Linked DNA regions of Homo sapiens. The protein of the gene in region 1 purifies or fractionates together with the protein of each later gene. This does not show direct contact. Each region holds a gene or a part of one and is shown in the gene's direction. Other genes may lie near its edges.

What was found. The genes of interacting proteins can lie anywhere in the genome.
Region 2: the proteins of PIP5K1A (region 1) and NRP1 purify together in Homo sapiens (affinity purification with mass spectrometry; 2 studies listed by BioGRID and IntAct, with this or other methods). This does not show direct contact.

What each region holds. Positions count from the first base shown.
Region 1 is NC_000001.11:151,229,552-151,233,051, forward strand, and holds part of PIP5K1A (phosphatidylinositol 4-phosphate 5-kinase type-1 alpha), read left to right. Parts: intron 1-2,119; coding exon 2,120-2,250; intron 2,251-2,696; coding exon 2,697-2,814; intron 2,815-2,999; coding exon 3,000-3,152; intron 3,153-3,500. UniProt on the Homo sapiens protein: Catalyzes the phosphorylation of phosphatidylinositol 4-phosphate (PtdIns(4)P/PI4P) to form phosphatidylinositol 4,5-bisphosphate (PtdIns(4,5)P2/PIP2), a lipid second messenger that regulates several cellular processes such as signal transduction, vesicle trafficking, actin cytoskeleton dynamics, cell adhesion, and cell motility.
Region 2 is NC_000010.11:33,328,168-33,331,667, reverse strand, and holds part of NRP1 (neuropilin-1 isoform a precursor), read left to right. Parts: intron 1-785; coding exon 786-960; intron 961-3,500. UniProt on the Homo sapiens protein: Cell-surface receptor involved in the development of the cardiovascular system, in angiogenesis, in the formation of certain neuronal circuits and in organogenesis outside the nervous system. Mediates the chemorepulsant activity of semaphorins.

The sequences.
Region 1 (3,500 bases):
GGTTTCTCCATGTTGGTCAGGCTGGTCTTGAACTCCTGACCTCAGGTAATCTGCCTGTCTCGGCCTCCCAAAGTGCTGGGATTACAGGCATGAGCCACAGCACCCGGCCATTTAGCTCTTTTTATATGTTGAACATTAAGATAAAAAGATGAGTTTCTATTATAACTGGGGAGGCAGGTACTTAAAAAAAAAAAGAAACTAATAATTTATTTTCCTTTGACCTATTTGTACATGAAAAAAACTAGTTGTAGGCTGGGCATGGTGGCTCATGCCTGTAATCCCAGCACTTTGGGAGGCCGAGGCAGGTGGATAACGAGGTCAGGAGATCGAGATCATCCTGGCTAACACGGTGAAACCCCATCTCTACTAAAAAAAAAATACAAAAAATTAGTCGGGTGTGGTGGCTTGCGCCTGTAGTCCCAGCTACTCAGGAGGCTGAGGCAGGAGAATGGTGTCAACCAGGGAGGCGGAGCTTGCAGTGAGCCAAGATCACGCCACTGCACTCCAGCCTGGGCGACAGAGCGAGACTCCGTCTCAAGAAAAAAAAAACAAAAAACTAGTTGTAATTTATTGCCCATTGAGGACCAAGTAGAAATATAAGTAATGCCTGGCCGAGGTTGGGGATGAGGCAAATGGAGCAAAGCTATCTAATCAAAGTTTCTGCAGTGATTGAAATGTGCTGTATCTGTGCTATCCAATATGGTAGCTAGTAGCCACACTTGAACTGTAAGTAGTAAGACTGAGAAAATGAAGTTTTAAATTTGAGTTAACTTAAATTTAAATAGCCATGTGTACCTAGTGGCTACTGTTATCAGACAGCAAAGATCTAGATGATGCGATACTTTCCCACGGGCTTGGAATCCTGGATTGTAAGAGTGGGGCTCTTGTATTTGTGTTTTGACCAAGTTTGATAATTCTAAGTCTGAATACTGCTCTCAGAAATAATTTGAGTCTTTCATGCTTTCTTCTTCAGTTAGGAGCTCTTTTACCACACTGTTGCCCTTTTTTTTGAGACAGTCTGGCTGTGTTACCCAGGCTGGAATGCAGTGGTGTGATCTTGGCTCACTGCAGCCTCCGCCTCCCAGCTTCAAGCAATTCTCCTGTCTCAGCCTTCTGAGTAGCTGGGACTACAGGTGCACACCACCTCATCCAGCTAATTTTTGTGTTTTTAGTAGAGACGGTTTCACCACATTGGCCAGGCTGGTCTCGAACTCTTGGCCTAAAGTGGTCTGCCCACCTCAGTCTCCCAAAGTGCTTGGATTAGAGGCGTGAGCCTCCGCCCGCGCCCACCCCACCCTGTTGGCCTTGAGACACACTAGTCAGGCCCTTCCTTAGAGGACTGAAGTTTCTGCCGCCAGGCAGTCAGATCAGAATATTGGTTAATTTTAGGGCTGGGCATGGTGGCTCATGCCCGTAATCCCAGAGCTTTGGGAGTTCTGAGGTTAGGAGCTTGAGACCAGCCTGACCAACATAGTGAAACCCCATCTGTACTAAAAATATAAAGAATAAGCAAGGTGTCGTGGTGCATGCCTGTAATCTCAGCTACTCGGGAGGCTGAGGCATGAGAATCGCTTGAACCGGGGAGGCAAAGTTTGCAGTGAGCCGAGATCATGCTGCTGTACTCCATTCCAGCCTGGGTGACAGAGTGAGACTTAGTCTCAAAAAAAAAAAAAAAAAAAAGGAATATTGGTTAATTTTAGTTACATTCGATATCAGATGAAGGAAATGTTTAGAGGGCTCCAGATACACTCTGGGGGCAGAAACCTTAGGAGTGAGAACTAAGAACGTTGTGTCAATACAATGTATCTTCCAAATACAAATATGGAACTCTTGTTTAGGCAGGCCAACAGGAGGGAGCACCTTGCCTAGCTGAGGCTGGCTCAGAGAGTCCCAGCTTTGCTACTCTGTATCCTCACTGTCCTTCCAATCTTTACTAAGCTTAATTGCAGAGTACAGCATAGGGATGGGGAAACTGGATTGTCCCAGTTTTATCTGAACTATTGCTCAGACTAAAGGATGTTTGTTTTAAAGTGTTCCTTCTAGCTTCCCCTTTCTGAATTTTTATTGTTATGATCCTACTTATACTAGGAATTTTCTTCTCATTTCTCTTGTTTCTCAGACAACCTCATCAGCCTTGAAAGGTGCCATCCAGTTAGGCATTACCCACACTGTGGGGAGCCTGAGTACCAAACCAGAGCGTGATGTCCTCATGCAAGATTTCTACGTGGTTGAGAGTATCTTCTTTCCCAGGTACAGAGTTTAATGTTCAGGAGCATGTCCTGGAAATGTGGCCTTTTCAAATCAGCCCAGGGCAGTTTTAGGGGTTCAGGTCGGACAATTTAGACATGTGTCCATTTCTTAACCTGGTTACAATCAGGGCGATGTGGGACTAGAGAGTTCGGAGAGCAGATACTGTCCTCTAGATGCTTCCATTAGCCTCTGTCCTATGGATTGACCCGTAAAAAACAACCTAATGCATTGGATAGGAGGCAGTGTGATTTCTTCTTCTTCTTATGTCTTGCTGTCCATGCTGTGCCATTGTCTCACTAACTCATCTAAGAAGGGCTGTGATTATCTTAGGAGGAATGTATTCCCCCACTCCCCCCACCATGAGGTGACTCTGAGTGTCTTCGCAAGGTAGATTCTCTGGATGATAGGGACTGGCAAGTTATGGCTACCTCTGTTTAACCCCACAGTGAAGGGAGCAACCTGACCCCTGCTCATCACTACAATGACTTTCGTTTCAAGACCTATGCACCTGTTGCCTTCCGCTACTTCCGGGAGCTATTTGGTATCCGGCCCGATGATTACTTGGTAAGCATCTGGATATCAGGACACTGTGACTCCAGTATCAGAGGGATATTCCCAAAGGAAGGCCCCTTTTCTCCACAGTCTCGCTCTGGTTTTTATTTAGAAAAGAATTGCATCTGTAGTTGATTTTTGTGTTGGGCAAGGCCCTGATGTGTCTAAATCTCTTAGTTCTTCTCTGTTTGCCCCAGTATTCCCTCTGCAGTGAGCCGCTGATTGAACTCTGTAGCTCTGGAGCTAGTGGTTCCCTATTCTATGTGTCCAGCGACGATGAGTTCATTATTAAGACAGTCCAACATAAAGAGGCGGAATTTCTGCAGAAGCTGCTTCCAGGATACTACATGGTAAGGGAGAGAGAAGCACTGTCCACCTGTGCTGCTCACTTCTGGGCAAGGCTGGGGAGGCTGTCTTCAGCAGGGTAAAACAGTGTCAGCACTTCTATCTTAAGAGTGTAGTTCAGGCCAGGCACGGTGGCTCATGCCTGTAATCCCAGGACTTTGGGAGGCCGAGGCAAGAGGATCACAAGATCAGGAGATCAAGACCATCCTGGCCAACATGGTGAAACCTCGTCTTTACTAAAAATACAAAAAATTAGCCAGGCGTGGTAGCGGGCGCCTGTAGTCCCAGCTACTCAGGAGGCTGAGACAGGAGAATGGCGTGAATCTGGGAGGCGAAGTTTGCAGTGAGCCGAG
Region 2 (3,500 bases), on another chromosome or scaffold:
CAGAATGTGAGAATGTGGGTTACCATATGTGATACCCAGACCTGTGTGGTGGGTTATTTTTCACCCAACATTTAGGTAATTAGAATTAATGCCATGTGGCTATTTACTTTTCCTTCTGCCCCGTTGCTTTGATCCGATCTCCAAGCTTGAACAACTTTACTTGGAGAAGTAAAGCAGAATTATTTCTGCTTCACCAAATATACTTTGTTCTCTGTTGATTTGGATCTCAAGAGCAGAGATAACTCAAAATCACTTAGATTTATGGGCAGATAAAACAACAACAACAAAAGGTTTGGCTTTAAGCCAATCAAAGACAATCCCCACTGATCAATGACATAGACCAGGCTTATCATCAAAAAACAACACAAGGGGTCGAACAGCATCTTTCAGTCACTTTCCACTTAGAACTTGCTACTTAATGTGATTACACTTCTTGGGGGATAATTAAGTCTAGCAGAAGCTCCCAGGGGACCATGTTAACATCAATTGAGGGGATTTAATGTTTTTAATGCTAGAAGACCTTTTCCTTAGGAAGAAACTTCGGGGCTGGGGGGAAGAGTCCTCTCAGATCTCAGTTGGCTTTCTGCCTGAGTCAACCTTCCTGAGATCAAAGAGTGTTTTTTCCTGGAGTGTTGCACTCAGAGCCACACGAAGGACTTACGGGGACCTTTTAGAGTTCCCCTTAAAAAGTTAAGGAATGTTTAATAACCAGTAATTTACATATAAAGCTAGATTACCTAACAGGTTGTCAGGAAAGATCTGCTAAAATCTTACTTTCATTGCAGATAAATGTGGCGATACTATAAAAATTGAAAGCCCCGGGTACCTTACATCTCCTGGTTATCCTCATTCTTATCACCCAAGTGAAAAATGCGAATGGCTGATTCAGGCTCCGGACCCATACCAGAGAATTATGATCAACTTCAACCCTCACTTCGATTTGGAGGACAGAGACTGCAAGTAAGTGGGAATGTTTTTGAACAGGGCACCACAGCACCATCTAGTGGTCACGCCTGTCTACGGGGGGGAAGTCGGTGTGTACAATGTAGATTATAAATGGATCCAGGAGGGATTCCAATCTCAGCCAGATTATATGTCAATGGTATGGAAATTGAAGTACGTTAAGTGATTTCTGAGTTCCCCAAACCAGGAAGATTATAGTTAAATGTGTAAGCTCTTATACTCCTTCCTGTTAGCACTTTTGGTTTGGGAACTCTTGTTAAGAAATGTATACAGTATGTATGTTTCTTTTTTCTTTCTTTTTTTTTTTTTCCTGGAGAGGGGAAGAACTAGAAACTCAAAAATCTCACTTGTATTTTTACGAAATACAGTGGATCACTAATATACATCGCATCCACAGATAGTGTGATTGGAGATCTCACTATTTGAGATATATTGAACTGTGGCACATCTTATGATTTAAGAACTGCATTCATCTTACTAAGTAAGTTTGACATGGAAAAAGCAAATTGAATAAAATAAGGCCTACAGGATAAGCCAGATGAGGGGTTTTGTAAATGGTGGATTACTGATTAAAATACTTTTATGGAAAATGCTAGAAAATAATTGTTAAGACACGATGAATACAATGGGAACTCAAATACACATCAGTGTTTCATCCACCTGCTTAGTCTTGCTATCTCTTTCTATTGTTAAGTTTCTAAACATCAACTTATGCCCAATTTCGTTATTATGAAGACATTCTCACTATAGAGACAGTCGAAATTATATTTCCTCACTTTATGTGAAAGAACTGGTATGTGGATATTGCTTTCCACAGTATCGAAAGTATGTTTTTACCTTGCACGTAGCAGTCCACTCAGATACATGTTTGCTCGTCTCTCTTAACACCCAACAGACCCCCTGTCTCTGTCTTGTCCACATTATCCCATTCTGACCCACTGAAAGTGGTGTAGTCTCCAGAGACTTGAACCTGAATATCCATCTTTTAAGTTTGTACATATATAAATAGTTTTATCAAAGAAAAATAATCGATTTAAATCTCAATTCTAAAGTGTTTCTCAGGGACTGAGAGGTTTTCACAAGTTTTAAAGTGGGTCAGTTTGGTGTAACCGTATATGATATCTACAGACTACTGCTACCGCTGGACCTAAATATTATTTTGCAAGTATATTCATTGTTAAAGACAGTCTATTTGAACACACATTTCTTTTGGGAAAGAACAGAGTAATATCAAAATCTTCCTACCTGTAGGAAGTGCTCGACAACCTGTTGAGTTGGTTTAGTAAACTAGCTTTTCATGGTCAGAGAGATGAGGTCATTTGGTTCATTCAACATTTTAGTATCTAGAGAATTAGCATAAATCCACAGGCTGATGACCAGTTTCCAAATAATCAGTGTATACTACAGTGCAACAAAATTACACCAATTCCAATTTATCTTTGCTTTGTGATTCAGAAGTGCCTCAGGGCATTATATTGACTTTTTAATTGTGTATGGAAGTTACCATTAATAGTGTTCCAGTGACTGCTTGGAAACAAAGAGTTCATTGTATTGATTTATTTATTTTTGCTAATATTCTTTATGGTGGTTTTTACAGTGTCAATCACCTAGACAATCTGGAGACTTGTTTTCTTTTATATTTGATTTACTTCATTAGTAGTAGCAGTAGTTATTAGTATTTGCTTTTTGACCATGTTTAAACTGCTATAGGAGAAACTCTGGTAAAACATACTCAAGTAATAACATTATTCCAAAAAATAAAGTGCTGTTAGAATTCAATAAACTGACGTTTACTAATTTCTAATCTGGAAATCATGACCATCAATACGTGTAATATAATACTTAAAGAATTCAGAATAATCACTAGTTATTGGCAGTGATGTGGTGGTAAATGTTTAACAGCTGGCTCTTTGGAGAAGACGAGTCAAGTCCTCATTTGTATGTAGCACATGCCAATTTCTGTGGTGTAAATACTCTCATCATAGCCAATTTCAAACTAACCATGTGATGTCACTGTGCCCAGACTAGCAAAGAAATGTGCACAGTTGGTTCTTATGAGCTGGTGGGCGCCAGATCCAGCACACAACTGGAGTAGAAATTTAAGAAGGGAAGCCAGTTGAATCACTTAATATATGTAAAGGGCTTACAATTCTATTTGCACATACATTTCTTCTGGGAAAGAACAGAGTAATATAAAAATCTTCCTACCTGTAGAAAGCGCTCAACAACCTGTTGAGTTGGTGTAGTAAACTAGCTTTTCATGGTCAGGGAAATAAGGTCATCTGGTTCATTCAACATTTTGGTGCCTAGAGAATTAGCATAAATCCATAGGCTGATGATCAGTTTCCAAATAATCAGCGTATACTAATTATTACAACAGCATCTCACAGTATTACAATGGTGTCTAGCTCACAGTAAACCTTAAATAATGATTTGTCATATCATGGTGTCAGGTGGGGTATAATGGGATTAAAGGAGCACCTTTTTGGTTAGTTTTCTTTTTAAAAAGTACATTAAAAGATGATTGTAATTCACAG